4 linked regions of the Homo sapiens genome follow. The protein of the gene in region 1 interacts with the protein of each later gene in a pairwise test. Each region holds a gene or a part of one and is shown in the gene's direction. Other genes may lie near its edges.

What was found.
Region 2: the proteins of SPTA1 (region 1) and BCKDK interact in binary tests that used the Homo sapiens proteins (3 or more experiments, as listed by UniProt).
Region 3: the proteins of SPTA1 (region 1) and ZNF326 interact in binary tests that used the Homo sapiens proteins (3 or more experiments, as listed by UniProt).
Region 4: the proteins of SPTA1 (region 1) and DGCR6L interact in binary tests that used the Homo sapiens proteins (3 or more experiments, as listed by UniProt).

Annotation. Positions count from the first base shown.
Region 1 is NC_000001.11:158,613,716-158,622,353, reverse strand, and holds part of SPTA1 (spectrin alpha chain, erythrocytic 1), read left to right. Parts: intron 1-1,887; coding exon 1,888-2,184; intron 2,185-3,019; coding exon 3,020-3,132; intron 3,133-4,297; coding exon 4,298-4,315; intron 4,316-4,765; coding exon 4,766-4,817; intron 4,818-6,950; coding exon 6,951-7,138; intron 7,139-8,047; coding exon 8,048-8,101; intron 8,102-8,486; coding exon 8,487-8,633; intron 8,634-8,638.
Region 2 is NC_000016.10:31,103,019-31,112,448, forward strand, and holds the start of BCKDK (branched-chain alpha-ketoacid dehydrogenase kinase isoform a precursor), read left to right. Parts: upstream 1-5,367; 5' UTR 5,368-5,461; intron 5,462-6,028; 5' UTR 6,029-6,205; coding exon 6,206-6,400; intron 6,401-6,492; coding exon 6,493-6,561; intron 6,562-6,654; coding exon 6,655-6,765; intron 6,766-7,058; coding exon 7,059-7,106; intron 7,107-7,186; coding exon 7,187-7,306; intron 7,307-7,382; coding exon 7,383-7,481; intron 7,482-7,669; coding exon 7,670-7,743; intron 7,744-8,072; coding exon 8,073-8,201; intron 8,202-8,281; coding exon 8,282-8,371; intron 8,372-8,850; coding exon 8,851-9,009; coding exon of another isoform or gene 9,010-9,013; exon of another isoform or gene 9,014-9,102; coding exon 9,103-9,247; 3' UTR 9,248-9,430. UniProt on the Homo sapiens protein: Serine/threonine-protein kinase component of macronutrients metabolism.
Region 3 is NC_000001.11:90,011,479-90,020,116, forward strand, and holds part of ZNF326 (DBIRD complex subunit ZNF326), read left to right. Parts: intron 1-1,647; coding exon 1,648-1,759; intron 1,760-5,838; coding exon 5,839-5,986; intron 5,987-7,206; coding exon 7,207-7,306; intron 7,307-8,638. UniProt on the Homo sapiens protein: Core component of the DBIRD complex, a multiprotein complex that acts at the interface between core mRNP particles and RNA polymerase II (RNAPII) and integrates transcript elongation with the regulation of alternative splicing: the DBIRD complex affects local transcript elongation rates and alternative splicing of a large set of exons embedded in (A + T)-rich DNA regions.
Region 4 is NC_000022.11:20,313,015-20,317,975, reverse strand, and holds the end of DGCR6L (protein DGCR6L), read left to right. Parts: intron 1-1,756; coding exon 1,757-1,857; intron 1,858-2,499; coding exon 2,500-2,640; intron 2,641-3,151; coding exon 3,152-3,301; 3' UTR 3,302-3,738; downstream 3,739-4,961. UniProt on the Homo sapiens protein: May play a role in neural crest cell migration into the third and fourth pharyngeal pouches.

The DNA of each region.
Region 1 (8,638 bases):
ACCTAAATATATGTACATTAATAATACATAATAAATATGTATGATTAATATGGATTAATATAATAATGTAACATTATTACATTACTACATCCATATAAAATTCCATATAAATATGTAATCAAAATATTCCTTCAAATGTTGGCTGCTAAGGCATTGGATGTTGATCATAAAAATATCAATAATGGAAGGAGGCCAGGTGCAGTGGCTCACGCCTATAATCCCAGCACTTTGGTAGGGCAAGGCAGGTGGATCACTAGATCAGAAGATCAAGATCATCCTGGCTAACACGGTGAAACACCGTCTCTACTAAAAATACAAAAAATTAGCCGGGCGTGGTGGCGGGCACCTGTAGTCCCAGCTACTCAGGAGGCTGAGGCAGGAGAACGGCGTGATCCCGGGAGATGGAGCTTGCAGTGAGCCCAGATCGCGGCCACTGTACTCCAGCCTGAGCGACAGAGCAAGACTCCATCTCAAAAAATAAATAAAAGGAAATCAGAATGGTCAGTGGAATTACTGAGCACTCCTAGACCCTAAGAATCATTGTACTTGGTAACAAATTAAGTCAAGGAGTTAGGGAATTTAGGAAATAACACATGAGTAAAAGTCAAATCAGAGTCTTAGTTAATTTCCACACTTTTGAAAAACATAGGGCCTACATCAAATAAATCTTAGGTGAAAAATTAAATCAATTAAGTGGGCAACTTTACACATATATGTGCATTCTATATAGGAAGCTCCTTCATATTTTTAATCTTCTTTTTAAAATAATTTCAAACTACAATGAGTTTTGTTTATTTTCTGATTACAAGATATTTATAAAATATTCACTCAATCTATAACATTATGAAAAAGATATTAAATACTTTATAGGTTTCTGTGTCCTTTCTGTGTAGAGGTCATGTTAATTTTCTCTGTATTGATCTATTTTGGCATATAGATTGCTGAAATGAGTACAGGGTCAGATGTAACGGTTTAATACCTTTGAAATCCTCCCTCCATTTGGGCCAGTTTTCTTCTTTTTAATTCTTGTATTTGGGAATGAAAAATTCATTTTTATGTTTGCTCAAGACAAACCTCTTTAGAAGTACTATCTGCTGACCCAAAATCTGTAATGTATTTTAAGTATAAAAGTATATTTGATCACTTGCTGTTTGAAAAAATTCATGCTTTTTCTGTCATTCAGTAATACAGAAAATTCAGAGCTATTCAGAGCACTTGGATAATGCCAGACAGTAATACAATGATACATATATTTGTGCTAAGGATACAGGTTAGAGGGTAGAAGATAAGTTTAAGCAGTGGTTTGAAAAGCTTCAGGCATAAAATGAGGCCTGAACAAGGTTTAAAAGGAAGGTAGGAAAATGACATAGCCTTGTCAAAGAGAAGTCAGCTGGGTGTGGTCTACAGAAGCTTGTAGGATAATAAGATAAAGGAGATAACAGATTTTCTTGGTTTGTTTATTCAATCATTATTTCATCCATTCATTCAATGCTTTTTTTTTTTTTTTTTTTTTCATGTTTACTACTTGCCGGGTAGAACTGGAGGATAGACTTTAGAACAAGAAATCATATAATTGAAAACTACCTTTGCTACTTTTGGAATTTTAAAACTGAAATAATTTTAGAAATAATTCGACCTCCCTCATTTGTAAATGATGAAAGACTTAAACAATTTCACACAATGAGAAAATGCCAGAACCAGGGCTCGTACCGCTAACTCACATGTTCAACCATCAAAGTACACAGTCCCTATTGGTTTTAGTTCTGCCCTTTTAGATTGGTGGCCCTGCAGATATTTAAAGACAGGCATTATTTTTATCCTCAATCTTCTCTTCTGCTGAGAGGCTTTATCAGGAAAGATGGTAGTGTCTTTTTTTTCTCTCTGCAGGCTGAGGACCTGTTCGTGGAATTTGCACATAAGGCTTCAGCTTTGAACAACTGGTGTGAAAAGATGGAAGAAAACTTGTCAGAGCCTGTGCACTGTGTCTCCCTGAATGAAATTCGGCAGCTGCAGAAAGACCATGAGGACTTCTTGGCCTCCCTGGCTAGGGCTCAAGCAGACTTTAAATGTTTGCTGGAGCTAGACCAGCAGATTAAGGCCTTAGGTGTGCCTTCCAGCCCTTATACCTGGTTAACAGTGGAGGTGCTGGAAAGGACCTGGAAGCACCTATCTGACATCATTGAGGTAACCTGGAACACGGCAGAAACTTCCTTTCACTACAGTGAACATAACCACTTTATTATCCAAGTAAATAGACTTTTGACATAGAAGGAACACTATTAATAACTATACTGGGACAGAAGTCATGAAACATGACTGTCTAAGAAAAACTGGAAAATATGTTTATCATAGGTATACCCTATGCCCCATAATTTGGGCAGTTTCCTGTTTTTGAGTATTGAACAATGATTCTGAGAAGCAAACAGAAGCCCCAAGACATGGTTCTAATGATGAGCTATGAAAAGTTCATGAGGCTTTATATGTATTCATTGTCTACATATCCCCCTCATTCAAGACATTTTCGTTTTTATATACACCTCCAAAAGTGCCTTGCTACGTATGTATTTTTAGCTTTTGTCTGTGTTAATAATGTTCATTATTGAAACTATGAAACATAAAAAGTGTAATAGAAAACTAACCACAATATCACCATTTTTAGATAGTAACTATTGTTTCTAAGGGTAGCAGGCCCTTTAAGGCTGCTTTTGTGTTCATTTAAATTAAATTTCCCCAAAAGAAATTATAAACAGGAGAGGTTTGCTTTTATTACTAGCTTACTTGTTACGGGACTTGGTCTTAGAGGACCCTGCAAGTACTCTTGGGAAATACACAGGCTATCTTTACATTTTAGAGGTGAGAGAGGTTGACTGCATGAAATATGAGCACACAGGCACATACCTGTGGAAGATAGGTTAGACTTGAGAGAGGAAAGATATGCAGTTAAGCCTACAAACCAATTCTCTTATGGCAAAGAAAGGCCTTCGATGTCAGTCACGTTGTCTGTGATTTGGGGTTTTAGGAACGGGAGCAGGAGCTGCAAAAGGAAGAGGCAAGACAGGTCAAGAACTTTGAGATGTGTCAGGAGTTTGAACAGAATGCCAGTACCTTCCTTCAATGGATCCTGGAAACCAGGTGTGCTATGCTACATCCCAAACCATGACCCCTGTGCCACCACCATTTGCCATAGGGATGAAATACATGTTTGAAGGGAAGAGGAGAGACTCTGAGAGCATGTATTCTGCCCTAAAATCCCCATATCTTGCCTATGCTTTATATTTGGAGTTGACTGTTTTCTGAATCAATTCTTGGAAAACCAAGAAATGACAATTTCATCCTTCTGCTTATTATGTACACTTCTGTATTCTCTCCTTGATACTCTCACCTTTCTTTCTGTTGCCTGTAATTTCAGTCCAAAATAATAACAATTTCTTATGTTCACATGCCATATTGCACTTTACAGAGTACTTCCATATCCATTACCTCACTTAACTGTCGGAGCAACCTTGAAAAGCATACAGAGCAGCTCTTATTAGCTCTGTTTCCAAGTGTGGAAAGTTCAAGTAGATAAATTTACTTGCTCAAGGTCACATATATATTTACTGGCATAACCAGAAGCAGAATCTTCTATGAATACCTCATATGAAGCTATTCTGTTGTGTACCTACTAAAGTTCTAATGAGAATCAAGTGAGATAATTTATGTTAATTGTGCTTATTAATAGCAAACTGTTCTGTACCTGAAGATAACATATGTCACATCTTCTGGGGTAAATGACCTAGAAAAAGGAGACTTAGAAGATGTAATATATTAGAATACATGGTCAAAGTTGTATCCAGTAGGTGTGTCAAAACTGTGGTGTTTTGAGGGTTAATGTGGTGGTTTAGACAATTCATGATATATACTTTTCTACATACTCACTGACAACGATAAATGAACAAAAAGAAATCCTATACCATGTCTAAACCATCTGACAGAAGGCAGAGAAGACACAGAACACCCTTCTCTTCCTCTTTTCTTGGTGACTTCATCACATCCTGGCAATGTGTGTCCAACACCAAGCATATTCCTTGACATTGGTGCTCCTTGTCCTGAAGCAAGGAGCTTTATGGGAGACTCTGATCTTCTCAGAGTGGGAGAGGCCTTGGGAACCAGTGGGTGGACAGATTCATGTTTTGTGGCAACAAAAGATTTAAAATGTTTCATAAATCTGAGGAAATGAGATCTTTAAAGTAATCCATTTTAACATATCATCTCCCTTTTCTCTCATGTGATTCCTGTTCCGGACCTCCATGTCCAGGGCTTACTTTCTGGATGGGTCAGTATTTTATGTTATCATCATGTTTGCTTTATTATATTATTATGGAAGAATTCGTTAAGAAAGAGTTAGTGCTGAGACATTTTCATTCCATTGTAATCTGGTAGTATGTAAATAAAAATGTGGAGTGAGAAGGAAAAGCTCATTATATTTCATTCTGCCCTTATACTTCACTAGACGGAATCTTGCCTACATTGCTTAAGTGTGTATTTAAGAAGAATAATTAAGAGGGGTATGTGAAAGCCTTCTCCTAGTCAGAGAAGAACTAGGGAAAGTCTTCCCTTCTCATCAGTCTGGCAAGGTTGTGAAAATTTGGCTCTGTGAAATTTTGCTTCATGTAAGCCACATAACCTTGGAGAAGTTGAAACAGAGGAGCTTCGAGTTGGTATGCATGTATGAAATATTGACCTGTGATGTGATGCATAATGATTTCCTTCGGTTCTTAACTAGATCATTGCTCAAAGAAACAGGAACTCTGGAATCTCAGCTGGAAGCAAATAAAGTAAGTATTGTTTTTTCATTAACTGAAGATATTGCCAAAATTATAAGGAGTGTAAAAATAATCACCTAAGGGAAGCCCAGGTGATACTTTTAGGTATGTATCACCTGAAGTCCATTTTAACCATAGGCCATCACATCATGAATATAAACCTCAGTCTACTTAAATCTCTGAATTTCAATTTCTGCATCTACACAATAGAGTTAGTACCCATTGTAGAGTCACTGTTTGCCCTGAAGAAAGAATTTCATGGGAGACTCTGATCTGCCCAGAGTGGGAGAGGCTTTGGGAACAGTGGGTGGGTGGTTTCACGTTTTGTGGCTACAAAGGATTTAGAACATGATGATGAAGTAAAGGAGCAAATGTAAAAGTGCCCAACACTGGCAAATTTCTGTTATTATATGACGTAGTAAGATGATACAATTGAATCTAATCATCTCTTGACAACTGAGCGAAGTAATGGGTTAGAACAGTGTTTCTCAACATTTTTTTTTTACTATTATTCTTGCAGGAGAAAAAAATTAAGTAATGACATTTAATTTTTTTCTAACAAAAAAATGAAATACTAGAGAATACGATGTCAGGTAGTTTTGACTGTCATCTCACTTGAGTTAAAGTGGCTTTTATTAAAAAAACAAGGAATAATGGATGCTGGTGAAGATGTAGAGAAAGTGGAAATAGTACAGCCACTATGGAAACCAGTATGGAAATTCCTCAAAAAATTAAAAAGATAAAGACCATATGATTCAGCAATCCCATTACTGGGTATATATCTAAAAGAAGGGAAATTAATATATCAAAGAAATATCTGCCCTCCCATGTTTATGACAGGAGATAACAGGGAGACTATTCACAATAGCCAAAATATGGAATCAACCTAACTGCTCATCAATGGATTAACTGATAAAGAAATCATGGTATACACAATGGAATATTATTTGTCCATTAAAAAATGAAATTCTGACATTTTCAGTAACATGGATGGAACTGAATGTCATTATATTAAGTGAAATAAGCCAAGCACAGTAAGACAAATATTGCATGTTCTCACTCGTAGGTGGGAGCAAAATAAAATGGATCTCATGAAGACAGAGAGTATATTGGAGATTACTAGAGGATAGGAATGGTAGGGGGAGATAGAGGAATGAAGAGAGGTTGATTATTGGGTATAAATATACAGTTTGATAGAAGAAATAAGACTAGTAATTGATAGACCAGTAGGGTGACCATAGTTTACAATAATACCTTGTATATTTTAAAATAGCTAGAAGAAAATACTTTGAATGTTTCTAGCATAAAGAAAAGACAAATATTTAAGGTAATAGACATCCAACATATACTGATTTGATCTTTACAAATTATATGAATGTATTAAATTGTCTTGTATACCCTGAAGTATGTACATCTATTATATATAAATGAAACTTAAAAAAAAGATGTCAGGCAAATTTGACCTTTGAAAGGCTACAAGCTTTGTCATATCCCACATTTTTTTCACTGCACTCCACAATCATCAGAATAAATTCACACTTACCCTTATGAGCAATATTCCCTCACTGAGAAAGCATGGGCAAGATGCAGAAATTTGGCATAAAACATGTCTGCATGGCAGGAGCAGCCCATGAAAATCATCCCAAGTTGATGAAAGTGGCCCAGGAGTGAACACTGTGGAGCTTAAGTGAGCCTGAGAGCTCAGCCACAATCAGTGTTGCAGATAAGTCCCAGTGCAGATCACTGTGAGCCATTGATGATGCATGGACTCTGGAAATTTTATTTTTCTTTATTGGCTCTCTTGATAGATGACAGATGATAGACAGACAGATAGATAGATGATAGATAGATGATAGATAGAAAGAATATATAGATATAGATGTATGTGTGTGTGTGTATAACTACTAACTCTTAGATTTATATGTTGCAGAATACCAGAATGACAAGTTTTATTCACCTAAACTTCCCATTATTTTATAAATGAGGACTATAGAAGTGAAGTGGTTTTCCCAAGTAGTTCATCTTTTCACAGAGAACAAGAAGATTCCTGAAAATAAAATCAGCCTGTTATCTCCTCTTCCACCTCTAGGTTTTGAGCTGGTAACCTGGGCAACTAATTGTCTCTCTTCTCTGTCGTTTTTCCAGAGAAAACAGAAGGAGATCCAGGCGATGAAGCGTCAACTAACCAAGATTGTGGACCTGGGGGACAACTTGGAAGACGCTCTGATCCTTGATATCAAATACAGCACCATTGGATTGGCTCAGCAGTGGGACCAGCTCTACCAGCTTGGGTTGCGGATGCAACACAACCTGGAGCAACAGATCCAGGCCAAGTATTGAGGGCGTGTGGCCAGAGCAGGGAGGGATGCAGGTGGTGTTAGGTGTTAGGACCTTAACTAAGGGCGAGAGTTTGGTGCACCAGATAAAAGAGTTGCTTCAGAGAACCAATATTCTGGGTCTTTACTGCCCCACGGAATGACTATTTCTCTTTATACTGAAATCCATCATGAAATAAAAGACAGTGCTCTCCATCCACCTGAGCCTACTCATCACCCACTTGGACAACAACTGACTTTTATACCCAATTTCTCAGAGTTCTTTCACCATCTTATGTGATCTCTTAGGAAACCATTCCCTTTCATAGAATTTTATCTAAAATGTAATGTCTAGATTAAAAGAAACATTTAAAGTGTGGCCAAATAGAGCAGAAGGGCAGAAACTCATTTTCTAGATAAATTCACTATATCAAAGCAGCTCTAGGTCTCAATAGCATTTTGGCAACATTTTTATCTAGATTAGGATTGGCAAACTTTTTCTGTAAATGGTCTGATAATAAATAATTTAACTTTGTAAGGCACATATATTTTCTGCTGTAACTCCTTGATTCTGCTGTTGTAGTGAAAAAAGCAGCTATGATAAGTGAATGACCGTGGCCATGTTCCAATAAAGCTTTATATATGGACATTGAAATTTAAATTTTATGTAATTTTCATGTTTCAAAAAATTTTCTTTTGATTGTCTTCAACCATATGAAAATGTAAAATCTACTCTTGGCTCATGGACTGTACAAAAGCAGGTGGCAGCCTAGATTTGGCCCATGGACTATAGTTTGCCAACTCTTGAACTAGATGACTCAAATAGCAAATTGTCCATTAAAATTCCTCTCTCTTCCATGTGGCTTGTGTTCTGCTAACCTGTGTTTCATATACAGGGAAAATTCATGTTTTTTTTTTTTCTTTCAGGGACATCAAAGGTGTGAGTGAAGAGACTCTAAAGGAATTTAGCACAATCTATAAGTGAGTATAATTTCATAGTTAACTGCTTCTTTGTTTTTCAGATTATTCAGAATGAGTCTACAAATAATGTTTCTCTCACTCTGTGAGGCTTGGTGGAATCTTAAATGAAGATCTAGATATGCTCATTAGCTCCAGTCATGGCTTTCTGTGAGATTTTCAGACTTCAAAAAATACATTTCTTCATTCTCAATGTTTTATGCTTTTCTCTCTATCCATTAGGTTAAAAAAATGTACATGACACAGACAGGCTTTGTATTCAGTCCTCTGATAGTTTTGTGACAGGTCAATAAAGCTTCAGCTGACGCAATAAGACATATTCCTTTCTGTTCTCACTTGGTTTTTCTATTGAGCTTGATAAATTTTTTTTTCTTTTTTTATCCTTTAGACACTTTGATGAGAATTTGACAGGGCGCCTGACTCACAAAGAGTTCCGGTCCTGCCTGAGAGGACTCAATTACTACTTGCCCATGGTGGAGGAGGATGAACATGAGCCCAAGTTTGAGAAGTTCCTGGATGCTGTGGATCCAGGGAGGTAGG
Region 2 (9,430 bases), on another chromosome or scaffold:
AGTGGCTCACGCCTGTAATCCCAACACTTTGGGAAGCTGAGATGGGAGGATCGCTTCAGGCCAGAAGATCCATCGTTACCAGCCTGAGCAACACAAGGAGATCCCGTCCTTACAAAATTTTTTTAAAAATCAGCTGGGTGTGGTGGCAGGCACCTGTGGTCACAGCTACTCGGGATGCTGAGGTAGGAGGATCGCTTGAGTCAGGGAGGTTGTGGCTGCCGTAAGCCATGAACATGCCATTGCATTCTAGCCTGGGTAACAGAGTGAGACACTGTTTCAGAAAAAATAATAAAATAAAATAAATAATGTTGTAGGACAGGCGTGGGGCTCACGCTTGGAATTTCAGTGCTTTGGGAGACTGAGGCAGGAGGATTGCTTGAGAACAGGAGTTCGAGGCTGCAGTGAGCTGTGATCGCACCACTGCACTCCAGCCTTGGTGACATGAGCGATATCTTGTCTCAATAAATAAATACATACAGTTCTCTTTTACATCGAGTATATGTAAATTTTTAAAAATACATTGAAAGCGCTTAGAAAGCCGCCTGACTCTCCCTCTCCCTCTCCCTCTCCCTCTCCCTCTCCGTCTCCGTCTCCGTCTCCGTCTCCGTCTCCGTCTCCGTCTCCCTCCACGGTCTCCTTCCACGGTCTCCCTCTGATGCCGAGCCAAGGCTGGACGGTGCTGCTGCCATCTCGGCTCACTGCAGCCTCCCTGCCTGATTCTCCTGCCTCAGCCTGCTGAGTGCCTGCGATTGCAGGCGCACGCCGCCACGCCTCACTGGTTTTCGTTTTTTTTTTTGGTGGAGACGGGGTTTTGCTGTGTTGGCCGGGCTGGTCTCCAGCTCCTAGCCGCGAGTGATCCGCCAGCCTCGGCCTCCCGGGGTGCCGGGATTGCGGACGGAGTCTCGTTCACTCAGTGCTCTGTGGTGCCCAGGCTGGAGTGCAGTGGCGTGATCTCGGCTCGCTACAGCCTCCACCTCCCAGCCGCCTGCCTTGGCCCCCCAAAGTGCCGAGATTGCAGCCTCTGCCCAGCCGCCACCCCGTCTGGGAAGTGAGGAGCGTCTCTGCTTGGCCACCCATCGTCTGGGATATGAGGAGCCTCTCTGCCTGGCTGCCCAGTCTGGAAAGTGAGGAGCGTCTCTGCCCGGCCGCCATCCCATCTAGGAAGCGAGGAGCGCCTCTTCCCCGCCGCCTTCCCATCTAGGAAGTGAGGAGCGTCTCTGCCCGGCCGCCCATCGTCTGAGATGTGGGGAGCACCTCTGCCCCGCCGCCCTGTCTGGGATGTGAGGAGCGCCTCTGCTGGCCGCAACCCTATCTGGGAGGTGAGGAGCGTCTCTGCCCGGCCGCCCCGTCTGAGAAGTGAGGAAACCCTCTGCCTGGCAACCGCCCCGTCTGAGAAGTGAGGAGCCCCTCCGTCCGGCAGCCACCCCGTCTGGGAAGTGAGGAGCGTCTCCGCCCGGCAGCCACCCCGTCCGGGAGGGAGGTGGGGGGGGTCAGCCCCCCGCCCGGCCAGCCGCCCCATCCGGGAGGTGAGGGGCTCCTCTGCCCGGCCGCCCCTACTGGGAAGTGAGGAGCCCCTCTGCCTGGCCAGTCGCCCCGTCCAGGAGGGAGGTGGGGGGGTCAGCCCCCCGCCCGGCCAGCCGCCCAGTCCGGGAGGTGAGGGGCGCCTCTGCCCGGCCGCCCCTACTGGGAAGTGAGGAGCCCCTCTGCCCGGCCAGCCGCCCCGTCCGGGAGGGGGGAGGGGGGGTCAGCCCCCTGCCCGGCCAGCCGCCCCGTCCGGGAGGGAGGTGGTGGGGGTCAGCCCCCCGCCCGGCCAGCCGCCCCGTCCGGGAGGTGAGGGGTGCCTCTGCCCGGCCGCCCCTACTGGGAAGTGAGGAGCCCCTCTGCCCGGCCAGCCGCCCCGTCCGGGAGGGAGGTGGGGGGGTCAGCCCCCCGCCCGGCCGGCCGCCCCGTCCGGGAGGTGAGGGGCGCCTCTGCCCCGCCGCCCCTACTGGGAAGTGAGGACCCCTCTGCCCAGCCAGCCGCCCCGTCCGGGAGGGAGGTGGGGGGGTCAGCCCCCCGCCCGGCCAGCCGCCCAGTCCGGGAGGGAGGTGGGGGGATCAGCCCCCCGCCCGGCCAGCCGCCCAGTCCGGGAGGGAGGTGGGGGGATCAGCCCCCCGCCTGGCCAGCCGCCCCGTCCGGGAGGTGAGGGGCGCCTCTGCCCGGCCGCCCCTACTGGGAAGTGAGGAGCCCCTCTGCCCGGCCAGCCGCCCCGTCCGGGAGGGAGGTGGGGGGGTCAGCCCCCCGCCCGGCCAGCCGCCCCGTCCGGGAGGGAAGTGGGGGGGGTCAGCCCCCCGCCCGACCAGCCGCCCCGTCCGGGAGGGAGGTGGGGGGATCAGCCCCCCGCCTGGCCAGCCGCCCCGTCCGGGAGGTGAGGGGCGCCTCTGCCCGGCCGCCCCTACTGGGAAGTGAGGAGCCCCTCTGCCCTGCTTGAAGGCAGCATGCTCGTTAAGAGTCATCACCACTCCCTAATCTTAAGTACCCAGGGACACAAACACTGCGGAAGGCCGCAGGGTCCTCTGCCTAGGAAAACCAGAGACCTTTGTTCACTTGTTTATCTGCTGACCTTCCCTCCACTATTGTCCTATGACCCTGCCAAATCCCCCTCTGCGAGAAACACCCAAGAATGATCAATAAAAAATAAAAATAAAAAAAAAAAAATAAAAAAATAAAAAAAAAAAAAAAGAAAGCCGCCTGACCTGTATACAGTATTCTGAAAAGGGGGTCGCGAGGTGCATGTCCAACCTCCGCCGCCGGGGGCAGCAGCGAGTCCAGGCCGAGCCGGGGCCTAGCGAGCGGGGTCAAATGGGGTGAGGCCTGTGCCAGACCTCTCCACCTCGGTGGCAGCCGCAGCCTCCTCCGCCTGCGGCTCCTGTCCACGCCGCGGCCACGTGAGCGCCAGATTCTGGCGCACAGACCACTGCCAGTCCTTTGCTGCTTTGCGCAGCCTGTCCTCCCCGCCAGGAGCACCCTTCCCGCTCCCTTTTACCACGGGCTCCAGCCGTGGCTGCCTTGGGGCTGCCGCCGCCTGGCTGTACTCCAGGACGTTGGGAAAGAACGGGTGGGAATGGTGTGGGTGGGGGTCAAAGAGGAAACCCAGAGATGCAGGGCGCCCCTTTCCCGTGGTCTGCCCCCAATTGCTCAGGCAGGCCAGTCACGGTGAGGCGTCCTCCCTCCAAGTTTATATTTATTATTATTTATTATTTATTTTTTTCACCTTCAAGTTTATTATTTATTATTTATTTATTTATTTTTGAGACGGAGCCTCTCTCTGTCGCCCAGGCTGGAGTGCATTGGCACGATCTTGGCTCACTGCAACCTCCGCCTCCCGGGTTCAAGCGATTCTTCTGCCTCAGCCTCCCGAGTAGCAGGGATTACAGGTGCATGCCACCACATCCGGCTAATTTTTGTATTTTTAGTAAAGACAGAGTTTCACCATATTGGCCAGGCTGGTCTCGAACTCCTGACCTCAGGTCATCTGCCCGCCTTGGCCTCCCAAAGTGCTGGGATTACAAGCATGAGCCACTGCACCTGGCTAACCTCCAAGTTTAAAGACAGCCGCCAGGCCCAGTGGCTCACTCCTGTAACCCCAACAACTCAGGAGGCTGAGGCCAGGAATTTGAGACCAGCCTGGGCAACATAGCGAGACCCCGGCTCTAAGAAAAATAGGCCAGGCACGGTGGGTTACGTCTGTAATCCCAGCACTTTGGGAGGCTGTGGCAAAAGGATTGCCTGAGGGGGAAAAAATCACCCTGGGGGTAGTGGTGCACACTTACAGTCTCGGCTACTTGAGAGGCTGAGGTGGGAGGATCATTTAAGTCGGAGGCTGCAGTGAGCTACTATGGAGCGACTGTATTACAGCTTGAGCAACAGAGCGAGACCCCATCTCCAAATAAATAAATAAAGATAGCCTCCAAAGATGTCACTTGCTTCACTTAGCACTTTTTATTGAACATATTTAGGAAATATATAACCATGGTAAAGAAAATTGCAATTAGTACAAATACACACTACACACATATGCACGTGCACACACTGAAACGTGTCCCTTCCAGCGCCTCCTGCCTGGATAATTTTTTTTTTTTTTGCAACGGAGTTTTGCTCTTGTTGCCCAGGATGGAGAGCAGTGGCGGGATATCGGCTCACTGCAACCTCCTCCTCCCGGGTTCGAGCGATTCTCCTGCCTCAGCCTCGCGAGTAGCTGGGATTACAGGCGCCAGCCACAACACCCGGCTGATTTTTGTATTTTTAGTAGAGACGGGGTTTTGCCAAGTTGGCCAGGCTGGTCTGGAACTCCTGAGATCCGCCCACCTCGTCCTCTCAAAGTGCTGGGATTACAGGCCTGAGCCACTGCGCCTGGCCTAAAGTAATTGTCTTCTTATTGGTTTCTCTGCCTTTGGTCTCACCAAACGCCCCACTCTAAATCACTGCAGACAAGGGGTTCTGTCTAAGGAGGAGAGCCCACCAGTTAAAACCCTTCAGTAGTTCCTAACTACCCTAGGACAAATGCAGACTTATCCTTCGCTCTCTGCTGCCGCCCCTCTCCTTCCCAGATCCCATATGGCTCCAGCCATATCCTCAGACCATCTGGGCTGTTGTCTGTCCTGCCACACACCCTTCCCACCCCGCTCCCTTGCAAGTCCTACTCAGGCTGCACCTACACAGCTGTCTCAGTTTCTATCTGAGGCTCCCGCAGCCTCCTCTGAAAGTCCTCATCACAGCCAATGATACTGAAACTGTTTTCTTATGCAGGGCACGGAAAGATCTATTCAACTCACTGCCCAATCTCCTCTCCTGGTGCAGAAAAGACACCCAGTCAGCGACTTGCATTATCTGCAGGCATGAGTGAATAATAATAATGCCTAACCCTTATATAGTGCTAATTCCACGCCTGGCACTGTTCTAGGCACTCATATAAATTCATGTAATCCACACAACCCCAAAACTGATGATATCTCTTCATCTTACCAAGCACTGAGCAGTTAAATAACTTGCTCCAGATATTAAGGGGTCGAGCTGGGGTTTGAAGCCTGGTTACCCATAAATGAACCAAGAACTGGAAGGAGGACAAGAGCTCCGAGAAGGAGTCAGGTAGGGCGTGATCTGTGCGCTTTACATCTAAGATCTTCCAGCTCCCAGGGAGCCCGTTTCATAGAGCAGGAGATAGAGGCTGGGAGGGACACGGAGAGCCTCGAGAGCCGTGTGGAGGAAGCGGTGCTGTTTGGGGTCCGGGAGCAAGGGCGTGGCCTGGATGCGCGGGCGCCCGGGACGGCACGTCCTCAGACCAAACTACAACTCCCAGGACCCAGCGGGCGCTGCCGCCCACGCGACGTCACGGCGGCGGAGGGCGCAGGCGGCTGGGCGCCTGGCGAGTGGACTGTTCGAGCCCTTCCGCTGGGACCCGGGCCCTGGCTCCGGCCCCGCGGTAAGTGGGGCGACCCCAGCCTACTCAGTCCGCGGAGGCCCCGCGGCGCACGTCCGCAGCCTCCATCACAGCGCGGGCGCGCAGACGGGGCTGGCATCTACCATATGGGGGGCATCCGGGCCGAACCAAGTGACCCGCGTGGGGGGTCCCGCTGGGGACTCCGTGCCGCACCCTCCCAAGCCGGCCCCAGGGGCCCAGGGCTGGTGTCGCACGTTCGCTGGCCGCGCTCCCAGGGCCCGGGTTTGAAGGCGCTGGGCAGGCAGGGGCAGCCCCGCCCCCTGAGAAGGGTACCCGGGACCCCGGGGCGCTGGGGCGAGGTTTTCGGGCTGGAAGGGTCTGAGGGGCTCCTCCCCCGACAGCCCTCCCACCGCCAGTAGAGCCTCGGGTTGGGGAATAGAAGCCCCCGGGAGGCTAGGTCCTTTGGGCGCGGCCTGTGTGCATCTGGGGAGACGGTGGGAGTGGTGGGGAGAGGTCGCCCGGGTCTGGGGAGACCGATGCACAGGTGGAGAGATGGTGCGGGTTCTGTGGATTCGGATCCTTACAACTTCCTCTTCCCCGCCCCGGTAGATGGGAGCTGCTCTCCGCGGGCTGAGCCTGTCAGCATCCTCGACGCACCCTGGTCCCTGAAGTCGGAGAAGAGCCCCTACCCACCCACACCCCCTTGCCCCATTTTGGGTCGCCTGGGTCCTCAGTCCTAGCGGATCCTCAGTCCTAGCGGCCACCGGGTCTGAAAGGAGCAAGACGATGATCCTGGCGTCGGTGCTGAGGAGCGGTCCCGGGGGCGGGCTTCCGCTCCGGCCCCTCCTGGGACCCGCACTCGCGCTCCGGGCCCGCTCGACGTCGGCCACCGACACACACCACGTGGAGATGGCTCGGGAGCGCTCCAAGACCGTCACCTCCTTTTACAACCAGTCGGCCATCGACGCGGCAGCGGAGAAGGTGCGCAAGGGGGCAGCCAGCCCAGGGTCCGGGATGTAGGCGGGAGGGAGAGTGTTGGGGGTTCTCTGCTCAAGGCCTCTCTCCCTCTCTAGCCCTCAGTCCGCCTAACGCCCACCATGATGCTCTACGCTGGCCGCTCTCAGGACGGCAGCCACCTTCTGGTAAGATTCACGCCCTCTATTTTCCTCGTGGATCCTGGAGCTCTCCCAGACACTCAGGCTCCAGCCCCGCCTTCCCTTCTCATTTTCTCCCAGAAAAGTGCTCGGTACCTGCAGCAAGAACTTCCAGTGAGGATTGCTCACCGCATCAAGGGCTTCCGCTGCCTTCCTTTCATCATTGGCTGCAACCCCACCATACTGCACGTGGTAAGGTAGAGAGGACCTTAGGTCAGCGGGCCACCCTGCCCCGGGGGCAAGTGGGGAGTCTGGGGCCCAGAGTGGCAGACGATTGCTTGCCTAAAGGTGTCAGGGCCACACAGGATTCAACCCCAGGCCTTCAGAAGCCAAAGGTGTGTATTCACGGAGCCTGGAAGGGTCGAAGTGGGGGTTTGATCACGTGGTCGACCAGCTGGGTGGTGATCCCCATGGGTAGGTGGGGGTGGCTGTTCTCTGCTCAGTGCCCATGCGGCTTTGTGAATTCCCACACCTCTTCCTTGCAGCATGAGCTATATATCCGTGCCTTCCAGAAGCTGACAGACTTCCCTCCGGTGAGTGCTGGGCCAGAGCAGGGTGAGGGGCTGAGAGGTTGGGCTTGGACCACCCTTCCTCATGACTCTGTGACCTGCAGATCAAGGACCAGGCGGACGAGGCCCAGTACTGCCAGCTGGTGCGACAGCTGCTGGATGACCACAAGGATGTGGTGACCCTCTTGGCAGAGGGCCTACGTGAGAGCCGGAAGCACATAGAGGTTGGGGCAGCAAAGGAGAGGCCGGGCCTGCTGGGGGTGGGAAGGGCACGGGATTCTGAGACCTCACTCTTTACAGGATGAAAAGCTCGTCCGCTACTTCTTGGACAAGACGCTGACTTCGAGGCTTGGAATCCGCATGTTGGCCACGCATCACCTGGCGCTGCATGAGGACAAGGTGGGGCTCTGGGACCTGAGACCCACCTGGGAACATTAAGTGAGACAGAGGAGACTGGGCTGGGGATCCGGGTCAAGGGCCTGGGGGCTGAGGCTGTGGGGCTGGTGCTTTGGGGCAGTTCCGAAGTTGCCAGCATCTTGGGGTGGGGCTAGGGGCGTGGGTAGTCCTGACCTCCTTTCTCCGGCCAGCCTGACTTTGTCGGCATCATCTGTACTCGTCTCTCACCAAAGAAGATTATTGAGAAGTGGGTGGACTTTGCCAGGTGAGGCAAGAATGGCTCAGGGGGTGGGCAGACATCTGGGGCAGGGAAGGCTTGGGTCTGAGCCCTTGCCCGGGGCATGATCTGCGGGGAGCAGGGTTTCTCAACCATGGCACTATTGACATTTCCAGCCAGATAATTCTTTGTCACAGGGGCTGCCCCGTGCACGTTAGGAAGTTCAGCAGCATCCCTGGCGCCAGCAGTACTGCCTAGTTGTGACAAACAAAAATGTCTCTGCACATTGCCATATGTTACTTAGGGGGGCAGAATTGTTTCCAGTTGCAAACCACTGGTGGAGGGGCCCCTGACTGAACCCTCGCTCCTATCCGCAGACGCCTGTGTGAGCACAAGTATGGCAATGCGCCCCGTGTCCGCATCAATGGCCATGTGGCTGCCCGGTTCCCCTTCATCCCTATGCCACTGGACTACATCCTGCCGGAGCTGCTCAAGAATGCCATGAGGTGGGGTGGCTTGATGTGCTGGCTTGGGGGCGGACAGGAACCGGGGTGCTTGTACCTACTGGTCTTTCCCCTCTGCATAGAGCCACAATGGAGAGTCACCTAGACACTCCCTACAATGTCCCAGATGTGGTCATCACCATCGCCAACAATGATGTCGATCTGATCATCAGGTTTGCCCTGAGTGGGAGTTGAGCTGAGGTGGATGGGATGGGGGTCTAGGCACTGTTTCTGACTTGATTTAGGACCTTGAGCCCCTTCCTGCCCCATTCTGGGACTTGGTCCCTGACCAGACAAACTATTCTCTGAATCCTGAGATGGCCATGAGCTGCTTATTAATGGATCTGGGGCCAGCTGCAGGCCTAGGTATCCTGCCTCTGTCAGCAGCTGAGGAGCTTGAAATTGAGAAATAGTCAGGAGTCGGTCTAGGATGCTGGGCCGAGGATAAATGTCACATCCTGTGAGAAGGTATAAGCAGTCAGTGGCCCTGGCAGGGGTGAGGATGATATAAACAAGGCCCAAGGGTCTAGGTGGACCACATTCCAGCTCTGGGTGGAAGGAACAGGAAGGCAGACTTTGCACTGTCTGCTTGGGGGGTGGTGAGTACCCCATCAAAGCTGAGCCAAGCCCATTGTTGTTGCCATCTTGCTAGGATCTCAGACCGTGGTGGAGGAATCGCTCACAAAGATCTGGACCGGGTCATGGACTACCACTTCACTACTGCTGAGGCCAGCACACAGGACCCCCGGATCAGCCCCCTCTTTGGCCATCTGGACATGCATAGTGGCGCCCAGTCAGGACCCATGCACGGGTGAGACCCTGCCAGGCCAGGATGGAGGGGTGGGGGACCCCAGGAGACTCAAGCCTCTGAAGCCTCCTGTCCTGTCCCCCTGCCCACCCCCAGCTTTGGCTTCGGGTTGCCCACGTCACGGGCCTACGCGGAGTACCTCGGTGGGTCTCTGCAGCTGCAGTCCCTGCAGGGCATTGGCACGGACGTCTACCTGCGGCTCCGCCACATCGATGGCCGGGAGGAAAGCTTCCGGATCTGACCCCACAGCCTTTGGCCTGCTCACCCGACCAGCCTGGGCCGCATTCCCTGCAGGACCTCCCGGGTCAGGCAGGGCGGCCCCCTGCTCCACACACTGCTGCATCTTGGGTCTCAGGGACCCAGACAGATGGACTTACATGGAGCTGGGCACTGCCCTGCCTCAACAGGGTCCATTGCCTCCTCG
Region 3 (8,638 bases), about 69 Mb from region 1:
AGTGCATAAAAGGAAAAATTTAAGGGCAAATAGTTAAGTTTTTTTTTTTTTTTTTTTTTTAAGTATAAAGTTAAATGTATTATAAGAAAGAACCTGCTCACAGTGAGTTACCACTCCATACCCACTTGGATGGTCATAATAAAAAAAGGAAAATAACAAATGTTGACAAGGATATGGAGAAATTGAAACCCTCACACATTACTGATGGGAATGTAAAGCAGTGAAGCCACTGTGGGAAGCAGATTGGTGCTTCCTGAAACAATTAAACATAGACTGTCCATATGATCCAGCAATTCCACTTCTAGGTATTCTTCTATTCCAAAGAATTTAAAGTAGTATTCCAACAAAAATTTATTTATTTATTTATTTTTATTTTTGAGACAGGATCTTACTCTGTTGCCCAGGCTGGAGTGCAGTGGTGCAGTCTTGGCTCACTGCAACCTCTGCCCCTGGGTTCAAGCGATTCTCGTTCCTCAGCCTCCTGAGTAGCTGGGACTACAGATGTGCACCACCACGCCCAGCTAATTGTTGTATCTTGAGTAGAGATGGTTTCGCCATGTTGGCCAGGCTGTCTTGAACCCCTGGCCTCAAGTGATCCATCCGCCTCAGCCTTCCAAAGTGCTAAGATTACAGGCATGAGCCACTGTGCCTGGTCCAAACAAAAATTTATATATGAATGTTTATAGTAGCATTATTCATAATTGCCAAAAGGTAGAAACAATTGAAATATACATCAACAGAAGAATGGTTTAAAAAATGTGGGTTATTCATACAATGGAATATTATTAAACCATAAAAAAGGAAGTACTTACTAATACATGGTACAACATGGGTGAACTGTGAAAACATGCTAAATAAAAGTCAGACCAAAAAGGCAACAGACAGGATGATTCTAGGTATATGAAATACTTAGAATAGGCAAATCCGTAGATCAGAAAGCAGATTAGTGGTTACCAGGGCCTTAGGGTAGGGTTGAAATGGGGAGTGACTGCTTTATGGGATGATGAACAGTTCTGTAACTAGATAGTGGAGATGGTTGCGTAACTTTGTGAATGTACTTAATGCCATTGAATTGCACATTTTAAAATGGTTAAACTAGTAAATCTTATGTTTTGTGTATTTTATCACAATAGAGAATATTTTTTAAAAAAGAGAACAAATTTGCTTTTATTTTGGAGGTTACAAATTTTAAGAAACTTTCTGAGAGCTCCTACAATATGAACATGAGTTCTTGCATCCAGGGCTCTGCAGTGTTTACTGGACTTCCATTTTCATGCTCGGTCAGGTTACTTTAGTGTTTTTCCCAAAGTATGTGATGCCCAAGATGATTTTAGGTGATAAGGATATTATTGCTTAGAATAAGGATAGGACAAATGAGCACATTTAAAGAAAAATATGTAGCAAATAATCACATAGATGACAAGCAGATATGACAGAATTCATGATGATGGTATTCAAATGAATGAAGTTCATTTAGTGAAGTTTCAGAAATACTGGATAGTCTCAAACTCCGATTTTTTTGGTGAGTTCAATTTTAGATTACAATCACTAAGTATACCTCATAAGTATGTACTTTACGAACTGATGATTGGAAAGAGAGAATGGAAAAATGAATTTTAGCTTTTACTTTTTTGTGTAATATCCTAGCAAAAACTGATCCTAAAAATGAAGAGGAAGAAAAGCGGCGAATTGAGGCTCGGCGAGAGAAACAAAGGCGCAGAAGAGAAAAAAACAGTGAGAAATACGGAGATGGATACAGGTTTGTACTTAGAGTCAGAAAATTAGGTTCATTAAAAAATGATTTCCTAGAAAAAGCCAACACATCAATTGTAATATTAAAAAGTTCTTAAGATTCAAATGAAAAGACTTGTTCAAAGATACAGAGGAATGCTTTTGGTTTTTGATATTTATATGTAATCACTACTTAGAAAACATAAGAAAAAAGGCATTCTATTCATATTGGCAATCCAAAAGATATCAAATATTCAGAAATAACAGTATTCTTAAAAAGAAACACTTGTCATTGAGATTTGACTGTATGGAGTCATAGTGATTTTCATGGGCAGGAATTAAATATTACAAATATGTAAGTTCTTTCCAATCCAGATCCCAAAGGAAATTCTGAAGAAGAGTAAATGAGTAGGTACTGGCTTTTATAGATAATCAATCATTAAAAAGCTATAATAGTTAAAAATATGTGGTAATACACAAAGCTAATTATTATACCAGATTAGCCTGTGAACAGACTGTAAGGAAGAATGTAATATTTAATAAAGAGGATATTAGAAATAAGAGGGGAATTGGGCTAGGCACAGTGGCTCATGCCTGTAATCCCAGCACTTTGGGAGGCCGAGGCGGGCAGATCACGAGGTCAGGAGATCAAGACCATCCTGGCTAACACGGTGAAACCCCGTCTCTACTAAAAAAATACAAAAAAAAATTAGCCAGGTGTGGTGGGTGCCTGTAGTCCCAGCTACTCGGGAGGCTGAGGCGGGACGATGGCGTGAACCCGGGAGTCGGAGCTTGCAGTGAGATGAGATTGAGCCACTGCACTCCAGCCTGGGCAACAGAGCGAGACTCTGTCTCAAAAAAAAAAAGAGGGGAATTGGTTGAACAATGAAATAACAACAAAAATCAGTTTAGAGCCTCCTCATATGACACCTGGAATGAATGTAGTAAAAAAAAAATGAAATTACAGAAAAACAAAATGTTCTGCAAGGAGATTTTTTTCCCAGGCTTAAAAGTTATAGAATAAATTACAAAGGAAATTATGAGCAGATTTGGCTAAATAAAAACTTAAAATTTGAAAGGAGTGCAAACAGACTTGGAAAATATAAACATGAGAAATGATTAATGTCCAAGTTAGATTAAAACATCACCCAAATTATTTTAAAAAGTAAGAAAACTAAGCTGTTTAATATGATGAGGAAACAAAAAACAGCTAGTAATAATTTTAAGGAAATTGTTTAAACTTAACAGTAATTTCATTAAACTAAAAATTTAAATAATAGTATGCCATTTTATTACTAAGGAGAAATTTGATTTGCTAATTAAGGAATGGTCAAAGGACGCTTAAAATTTGTTGGTGACAGTATATTATAACTATTAGCAATTTAGCAGTTTTTTAAAAATGTCTAAATTTTTCTTAAAGCCTTGAGCCCAGAATTTTGAGGCCAGCCTGGGCAACGTGGCAAGACCTCATCTCTAAACAAAACAAAACAATCCATAAAAAGAAGAGTAGTTCTAGTTTCAAGAACTACTGCTATTTTTAGTCCTTGTGAGTTCTCTGTCCCATTCATTATCTCTTGTGATTCCTTCTTTTGGTAGAAGTAACAGGCATAGTTAATATTTTGGTGTAGAAATGACTTTAAATTATCAGCGTCTTGGAGTGTAAAAATCATTTTACATTATAAGATGCAATTTTTTAAATTTAATTGCCCTATGAGTACTTTTCTCATGAAAAATTTTAGATATGGATTATGTTCATGTTAATATAATATATAAAATTGTGATATAGAGAAAATGAAAGAATTGAACTTTCATTTAGCTATTTTCTCTGTAACTCTAAATATAAATCTGATGATATAACCAAAAGAATGTTAACTCATAAATTATCATTTTAGGATATAATTTATTTAAAGTAGTCTAAGTTATTTTCATTTATCAGAGCAGTTTTACTTTGAGTTATGAGGATTCGAGATTGAGTAAATCACTATTCTTGTGATAGGTTCCTTCCCTTGGATATTTGAATGCTTCCCACATAATAAAGCACATGGAAAGGTTTATATCTACCCTTAAGGGAACCTAGGGAGAAAGAGATGGATGTGTGAGAGATGTACATAAATAATAGTGTATGGTGAAGGATACCAGGAGTACAATGTAGTCTCATGAGATATAACTTCTAAATAAGGGTATAGGAGACCAAGCATGGTAGCTCATGCCTGTAATTCCAGTACCTTGGGAGGCCAAGGCAGGCGGATTGCTTGAGCCTAGGAGTTCAAAACCAGCTTGGGCAACATGGTGAAACCTCATTTCTACAAAAAATACAAAAATTAGCCAGGTGTGGTGGCACGTGCCTGTGGTCCCAGCCACTTGGGAGGCTGAGGTAGGAGGATAGCTTGAGCTTGGGAGGTGGAGGTTGCAGTGAGTTGAGATCGCGCCACTGCACTCCATAGCCTGGGCAACAGAGCAAGACTCTGTCTCAAAAAATAAATAAATAAGGGTGCATGGAAATCAGGGGAGGCTGCAATGATGGAAGTAGTATTTGAATTGATCTGGGAATGGTAGGGTTACAGGAGGAGTTGTGAGAGGCAGCCCAGGTAGAGGCCATGGCTTGCCATCAAAGCAAACAGGAATGTGTTATTGTTATTTAGAAAATTGAAAGCAGTGTAGATTGAAGTGACTCTAATGGGTGAAAGGTATAATCTAATTTAAACATTTAATGAAGAAATGCTGTGCCAGATAATGTTAAAGGTATTGGTGAGTAAAGCCAAAAAGAAGAGATTAGGAAATTTCCTGGATGGCAGCTGAAAACATTTTTGTCTTTGTTTTTGGAGCTTATGGAGCTAATGAAGCCCTTTGAGCAGTAATGTGCTCTTACCTCCTATAGGAAGTAGCAATAATTAATTGAATAATTATTGTGTTTTAGGAAATGTTCTAAGGGCTTTGTCTGCATTAATTTTTAAAAATCCTCAGACACCTCTGTGAGCGTTCTCATCTCAATGTAAGAAAACCAAGGCCCAGAAAACCAAGTCAAGTAACTTGCCCAAGATCACAAAATGGAATTAGGATATGAACTCAGCAGTTGGCTCCAGAGCTCATACTCTCAACCAGGAAAATAAATCTAATAGCATTGCAAAGAATTAATTGGAAAATGGAGACTGGAGACAGAAACCAGTTATGTGACTGCTGGCATAATTCAAGGAAAAGAAAATAATGTAAAATAGAAACAGTTATTCTGGTCACGGTGGCTCACACTTGTAATCCCAGCACTTTGGGAGGCCGAGGCAGGCAGATCACCTGAGGTCAGGAGTTCAAGACCAGCCTGGCCAAGGTGGCAAAAACCCTGTCTCTACTAAAAATATAAAAATTAGCCAGGTGTGGTGGCGCATGCCTGTAGTCCCAGGTACTTGGGAGGCTGATGTGGGAGAATTGCTTGAACTGGGGAGGTGGAGGTTGCAGTGAGCTGAGATCGCACCACTGCACTCCAGCCTGGGCAGCAGAGCGAGGCTCCATCTCAAAAAAAAAAAAGAAAAAGAAAAAGAAAAAAAGAAGCAATTAGGTGGGACTGTTCATTATGGAGTGGCTCTTGAGCTTACAGATGTATGCATTTGTCCAGTCCAGGCCTATTAGTTATCCCTAAGTGAAGTAGTCTTTAGAAGGCAAGACTTTTATCACCCAAGAATTCCACAGGAGTGAATTATGATTGTCTGGTGGTGTGCCACCTTGCTTTATTGATACTACCATTGGTTTAGAAGCTTGAGGATGGAACAACATGTAAAATAAGTTGCAGAACTTTGGAACTTGATACTTCTTGAGGTTTGTTTTGCCTTTTTAATTGGTCCAGGCTTGAAGTGGATAACTTATAGATCCCCTGATTCAATTTTTCCTACCCGGAAGCTCCAAGGTGGGCTAGAAATGCAAAGTGGTATATGGGTACTGTCCAAATATGTACTTAAATACTGTTTTTTTTGGATTTAAGCTAAGTTTAATTCAGTCATAAAGAGGAAGAAAGGAAATCATTTATGTTGGTAAAATTAGTTTCAATGTTATATTCTTATGAACTCTTTATAGTTGAATAAAGTAATATTTAAAGGAAAACTTTTTTTTCTCTTACAGAATGGCATTTACATGTTCATTTTGTAAATTTCGAACATTTGAAGAAAAAGATATTGAACTGCATCTGGAAAGTTCTTCACATCAGGAAACATTAGATCATATACAGAAACAAACTAAATTTGATAAAGTAGTTATGGAGTTTTTGCATGTGAGTAGCTGTTTTTGAAGTGAGAAGCATTTTATTGATATGAATTTCTTATGATTTCATTTTTCACTCTCCCCATCTCTCACATTTATGTTTCTAAAATTTTAATTTACTATTTAAAGAAAGAGTTGTTTTAAAATTAACTCAGAATTACTTGTGAATTCCTCTATAATAGAATTTGTATTTGTTATTTCAGAAATTATTACATTTTTCACAGTTTCTGCGGGAGGTGTCCTTTAACAACTGTATTGATGTGGAGTCAGCTATCATCCATTAACTGGAGTTGTGCTGGTTACATTCATTCGTTATTTCAGTTGAGCCCTGTAACAATTCATTTTTATCATGAAAGATTATGCTCAGAGCAGTTAAATGACTGTTAAGTGACAATGCCAGGAATTCAGAAATAATGTAGGAGTTTAGCAAAGGGAAAGACAGTTGGGAATGTTAAGGAATGCTTAAAGAAGGGGCTTGAGCTGGACTGTTGATTGTACGTACAATTAATTTGGACAGAAGAGGTGGAATTATTAGAAAGTTAAAAATACAATGATCAGGCCGGGCGCAGTGGCTCACGCCTGTAATCACAGCACTTTGGGAGGCTGAAGCGGGTGGATCACGAGGTCAGGGGTTCAAGACCAGCCTGAGCAACATGGTGAAACCCCGTCTTTACTAAAAATATAAAAATTAGCCAGGCGTGGTGGCGCGTGCCTGTAATCCCAGCTACTTGGGAGGCTGAGGCAGGAGAATTGCTTAAACCCGGGAGGCAGAGGTTGCAGTGAGCAGAGATCGCACCACTGGACTCCAGCCTGGGTGACAGAGCGAGACTCCATCTCAAAAAAAAAAAAAAAAAGTGACCTTTCAGACCACTGTAATTCTCATAGAACTGTGACCCTTAATTAACAATCTTCTGTAATTTATTTCCTTAATGGGTTTCTGTGTGTCCTTTATAACTTAAATACCCACCTACTCTGGAAGACCTCTTAAATATTCTAGCTCCCTTTGATCCCTTTCTCTATATGCTTAAAATATACTTTGAAAAATGAATAATTTTTGTAGGTTCCTAATATTTTATGATTATCTTTTCAATTAAATTATAAACTCCTTGAGAAAAGATGTTAATTCTTATGTAGCAGATACTGTATCTTCCATAGAATGAACATAGTGCTAAGCATTATACTTGAGTGCTCATTGAAAGCTATTTAGATTCTTTCTATTTTGTTTTCTAGGAGTGTATGGTGAATAAATTCAAGAAAACATCTATTCGTAAGCAACAGACAAATAATCAAACAGAAGTAGTTAAAATAATTGAAAAAGATGTTATGGAAGGTAAGTATTTAAAACAAATTATTTTAAAATTCTACATGTATTTTTATATATCATAACCTGTTTAAATGTAAATGATAGCCACTAGAGTGATATAGTACAGTCATATATACAGTAGCTCTGAGTGAGTTACCAGAAATGAACTTCTTTGTCTTCCTGTTCTAATGCTTACAAATTTATCATTACCTGCCATTACTTTCTTCACTTCAGTTTGAGAGGAAAAGTTACCTTTTCCTCTAGATGAAAGATACTTCTCTCTGTTCTCTGTTTCTGTTATTCCTTCTCCCAAAATTCAAGTTATGAAATCTTCTGTTTTTTAGTCTTTCCTTCTCTTTTGATTCCATCTCTGGAGTCTGTAAATATGCTTTTACTTAAAAAAAACAAAACAAAACAAGAACAAAAACAAGAACTAACCAAACAAAAAACAGCCAACAAAAGGAATAAAAGAAAAGGAAAGAAAAACAGACACTAGTTCTCCTAAATAACCTGTCTTCTTTTTCTTTTTAAATAACCATGCTTCTTTAAGCATAACCCACACTATTCTCTGCTTCTTCATCTCCCATGTATTACATTAAGCTAATTAAACAACTTTCTACTACTGTTAGTCTACTGAAACTGCTGTGACAGAAGTTACCAACACCAACTTCTCTAGGTTCTTTGGAATCATTATCTTCCGTAACATTTTTTACTAACTATATGATTCATGAATCATTTTTCTTCCTTTGTTTCTGTGGCACTTCACTGGCCTAATGTTTTCTTTATCCTTTTGTCATTTTTTAAGTCTTTATGGTTTCTCTGCCACTCTTTTAGAATTTGATGTTTCTCAGTACCTTGTCATTAGCCCCATTACCATCTCTTTTTATATTCCTTCCTAATAAATTCACTTACAGAGCTTAAGTTAGTATCTAGATGTTCATTGCTTATACATCTATGTTTCTAGCACAGATCTTTCTTCTGAACTCTAGTCTTACACATCTAACTGCCTACTGACATCTCTTTACAGCAGTCACACAAAATCAACATATCCAAAAAAGTTATCGTCTCCTTGAGCATATCCTACCTTACAAAGAAAGCAAAACAAAACCTCACAGTTTTTTCCTTCACGTATCTTGAGAAGGGCCTGCACCATCTACCAAAGCCAGAAGTAGAGAGTTATATACTAGGTACTTTTTCCTTACTGTATCTATAGTACTGATCAGTTGATAACATCAATTCTCTTTTAAACATTTATCAAATCTGTTTCTTTACCTCTCCTTTAAATACTGTATTTGTTCAAATCCTTTTCTGTTGTCTTGACAATTGTAGTATTTCCGAAGTAGTTTCATTACTTCCAGT
Region 4 (4,961 bases), on another chromosome or scaffold:
CCAGCCTTATAGGATGAGTTTCGAAGTGTTCTCTCCTCTTCAGTTTTCCAGAAGAGTTTGTGTAGAATTGGCATTACTTCTTCCCCTAAATGTCTGGGCGATTGTCTTTTTAAAATTTTTTATTGAGCTGTAAGATGTATGTAGTTTACTAATCCCAAGCGCATGGCTCATTATTCCTTAATGCCCAGACTGTGCCATGTGTGGCCAGTTGGGGGCGCTCCAGGCACCTTTAGATGCCGCCCCATCATTCTGTGAGCACTTTCTTGCTTTCTGGTTCAGGTATGTGTTCAGGCTCATCTTTTCTTGTTTTCTCCGTGTCTCAGTCCTGGAATCGGCCATTTTTCCACAGAGCTATAGTTCCTTATAGCAGGATGGGGAGTTTTAGTAACTGCCTGGGCCCAATGCTGTTTGTGCTTCAGAAGGTTTGGGCCAGGCCCTGGTTCCACCAGCAGCAGGCATGCCTGCATTGACTTTCTGCTTCTCCTGCTGATTTGGCAGGGGCGACTGGCTGCTCCTGCCTCCTTTGTGTTCCCTGGTCATGTCTAAGGCCAGGCCCCTTCTGCCCAGGCAGCCAGCGTGGCTCTCTTCTTGCCTTTTGGTTGTCTATCTAGTGGAATCTGGTAGTGGACCTGGCACTTGTAGCAATGTTTGATCAGTAGAGTGAAGGAGATGACATTTCCCTGCTTCCCTGTGTTATGGAGCTGTCTTGAGGGGGGCTTTTGGTAAATACCATCGTCGAGGTGTGTACAGAATGTGAAGAGACAGGAGATCGGGGAAGGCTGTAGGCACAGCGGGAGCCAGGCTACCTGCAGGGGAGCCTCAGGGGCCCTGGAGTTCCCTGGGGACTGGCCACCAGAGAAGAGCTGCAACATCAGGGCTCTTCCCAGGAACAGAGTGTTGGGTTTCACCTTTTCTTTTGGCCAGGGACCCCTCCCTCCTGGGGAGCTGTAGCCATTTGGCACTTACTGGTCACTGGCGCCAGCTGTGGGGTGCTGCATGTTCTGTTTCATGGTGGTTTATGTCCCATGATCGCTTCCTCTGTACATTCCCTTCAGACCAGACAGTTTGCACACATCTGTGTTTGTGCACAGTTTAGCAAGGACCGTGGAGCTTTACTTGATGGCTGAGGGTGAGCCCCTCAGAGCCACACAGGCTTATGGCACCCCAAGCTCATCCCAAACTTGGGCCTCCCAGGTCTGCCCACCCTTCTCCCTCTGGCGCTGTGCGGGGGCTGGGAGCTGCAAATGAGGGAGGGGCTGTCTACCCTGAAGGGCAGCACTGAGGGTGGAGGGCCCGACCACACCCCTGGTAGGCAGAGGCCCCACGCTCAGGGTCAGCGACCCCGCTCCTCCTGCTCCTTTCCCATGCCTTTGCCTGAGGTGGTCTCTGACACTTGAGTAGATGTCTCATGGCCTGTGGCCATGGGGGCCCTGAAGCCCTCAGACTGCAGCCTCCCTCCCGCCTGCCTCCTCCAGCTGCCCTGGGTCTGGGGCTGCAGCTTTGGCCCCACCTGGCCAGTCTTCCCCACCCCACTCTTTCAGTGCCCCGCACCTTCTGGAGTCCCCTGGAGACTTGCCACCAGATAAGGGCCCGGCCCTGGGTGACAGTGGGGTGGGAGGATGGAGGAGGCTGGCATCCTCCCCACTGCAGACACCCCTTTGGCCTGGCTGCTCTGCTGGGCTGGCAAGGCAGGTGCCCATGGGTGAGGGCTGCTGCCGAGTCCCACCGCCTGCTGACGGGCTCTCATCCCTCCCAGTGCTCAGGCAGGCGCTGCGGCAGAAGCACCAGGAAGCCCAGCAGGCCTGCCGGCCCCACAACCTGCCTGTGGTTCAGGCGGCTCAGCAGCGAGAACTAGAGGTACTGGGGGCGCAGGCAGGGTGGCCGGCCCAGCTCTCCTGTGGGCACCACCTGGCTCTGCTGACTGGGCTGAGCTGAAGGGGTGTGGGGGCTCAGGCATGGGTGGCTGTCCTGGGCCTGAGTGGGACACTGGAGGCCTAGTGAGTCCCACCAGGTGGCTCCTCTTTGCGGATACCAAGTGTGCTGGGGCTGGGTGGAGGTTGAGAACCCACCAGTGCTCCCCTGGATAGCAGCTCCTCGTGGGTTTGGGCCTCCACAGAGCAGGTGGCCTCAGGGGGGTACAAAGGCAATGGTAGGGTGTTGGGGCCAGGAAGGGGCCCATCCTTCTCCCAGGGAGCACAGGGACAACCAGAGACTGGCATGTAACCAACAAGCCGTGGGGCAGGGTGTGCCTGTGGAGATGTGTGTGTGGTCCTAAGGCAGTCCCAAGCCAGGGCATTCGTGGAAGCCCCTTGGGGCCCCCTTCAGGGGTTCACATGGCCGAGGAGAGGCCTGGGTGTGGTGAGGATGCACCGGTGGTGTCAGAGCTGCTGCCACTGGGGACGGCAGCAGGAGCATGTGTTTGAGCTGCCCTCACCTCCCCGCCCCCTGATGGCAGAGCTGCCCTCACCTCTCCCCCTCCGCGCCCTGGCCCCATGGCAGGCCGTGGAACACCGGATCCGTGAGGAGCAGCGGGCGATGGACCAGAAGATCATCCTGGAGCTGGACCGGAAGGTGGCTGACCAGCAGAGCACACTGGAGAAGGCGGGGGTGGCTGGCTTCTACGTGACCACCAACCCACAGGTCAGTGCCTGGGCCTGCTCTGCCCTAGCCCGAGTGCCCCGGGGCCCCATTCCATCTGGGGTTTTACTGCTGGTCCCTGGGGAGCCAGGCTCAGGGTATGGGGGTGAAGTGGAAGGATTGAGGCTCTGGAAAGGATTTCTGTGCCATTCCCAGCACGGAGGCCAGGCCCATTCCCTACAGGAGGGTGAGCCAGCCAGCCATGGGCACTGCCCACCCTCTCCAGGCCTGCTGTGCCACACAGGGCCCTCTTCTGCTCCCCTCCCGCATGCCATTCCGAGTGGCCCTGCTGGGGGCAGAGGCTCAGATTCCGAGTGGCCCTGCTGGGGGCAGAGGCTCAGATTCCGAGTGGCCCTGTTGGGGGCAGAAGCTCAGATTCCACCCTGTCCTGGCAGGCCATGACCAGGCTTCACAGGATGGTCGCCCCCGTGGGCTCACTGCCTGGCACCCTTGGGCCGGGATGAAAGGGGCCTGGGGGTCACTCTGGCCTTCATGGGGCCCCTCTGTATCCCAGGAGCTGATGCTGCAGATGAACCTGCTGGAACTCATCCGAAAGCTGCAGCAGAGGGGCTGCCGGGCAGGGAATGCAGCCCTGGGACTGGGAGGTCCCTGGCAGTCGCCTGCTGCCCAGTGTGACCAGAAAGGCAGCCCTGTCCCACCATAGCCACAGGCAGCAGAAGTCTGGGCAGAGTTCATCTTCTTGACCTTTGGCCACTGCCTTCCCAGCTGCCCGCAGGGGGTTCCCCCTGCTGAGGAGAGACCAGGTGGACCCCAGCTGCCTGTCACCCTTCATCTGGGACTTGCTGTCAAACCCTAGGATAGTCTCATAAAGGGGAGGCTGGGCCAGCCTGCTGCTGTCTGCTTCAGGACCAGGCAGAGAGTGAGGCTGGGGGTTCTCACACCTTACTCCACCGGGCACATCCCAACCTGCACTGGGGCCCACCCGAGCGCTTGTTCTGGTCTCAGCCGCTCCCTTGGCAGCTGCAGCCCCCATGCAGAAGAGGCTCCCAGGCCCAAGCTCTGTGTGACCCAGAGAAATAAAGATGCCTCAGTGTGGCCCAAATGTGGCTTGTGTGATAGCTGCAGGTTCTGCCATAACCGGGGCCCTGGTAGGGCCCCCACCTCTGTTGCAGCAGAGGCCTCTACCTGGGGGCCCCTTCCTGGGCTGTGTGCCCAGCCCACCACCCCTCCCCCTGCCTGGAGACTGGGACCCTCCAGCCTTTCCTGCCCCAGCCCTGGTCCCAGGATGCTGTCACTGCCATCTGTACAGGGGCCCCCATCCAAGCCCCAGGGCATGAGGACCACATCCAGCCTGCTTTGTGGGGCTGGGGGCTGGAGAGCATGGGAGAAGGCCCGGAGTGCAAGTATGCGCCTGCCGCAGCCTGGTCAGTGTCCTGTGGGAACCACTAGGAGGAGCCTGATGCAGGTCACTGGGATAGAGGACTCAGGGTGGCAGGAATGGCCTGAGGAGGAGCCCTGCGGGGAGGCATGCCAGGGCCACCTGGGGAGCTTGGCTTCTGCATCTGCATGAGTCCCCTCCGTGCTGGCCTGGGCCCATGGGCCCTGCTGGGTCCTTGTGGAGTCAGGGTTGGGGGTGTCCAGCACCCTGGGTGGCCAGGTCTGCGCAGGGCCTGGCCTCCAGGAACAGATGATGCTGGAAGCCAGAGTTTGGGATGAGACTTCTCTGACCCTGTCTGAGCCACTCCCTCTTTGTTGCCCAGAGCTGACCCTGTGTGAGGGCAAAGGGCTCTCAGCTGCAGGAACAGTGGTTTATTGACCAGGCAGGCCTCCCCAGCCCGGCCACTGCTCCCCGAGGGGCTCGGGCTATGTGGGCTGGCCTTGGGAGAAGGTGGACAATCCTCTAGGTCCAAGGACATGGGGGTCACAGAGGTGGGGGCCTTGGGCCCACACATCCGAGGAAAGTTCCTAACAGTTACCAGCGGCTATCCCAGGCAGGTATCAGGGTCAGCCCACACCTGAGTGCCCCCACCATTGGCAGGGCTGGGAGGCACCTGACTCCACCTCCAGCAGCTCTGCAAGTGTGGGGTGAAAAAAGGTGAATCTGTGTGAGGATGGGGTTGGCTGCAGCTGTGGTGATGGCCTGGGCGGGGGCGGGGGGGTGCTAGGTGGGGCAATGGAAGAGGTTGCCAGTTCGGAGCCACCTCAAGAGCTCCAGCCACAGCAGCTGCCGCTCCCGACGGGCACCCTTCACGAGGCTGCTGTTCTCCAGGGCGTGGCAGGACACGTATGACAGCACCTACAGCCCTATACTTGTACACAGGGTAGCCAGCCTGGCCTGCATGGGGGCAGATAATGCCATGAGG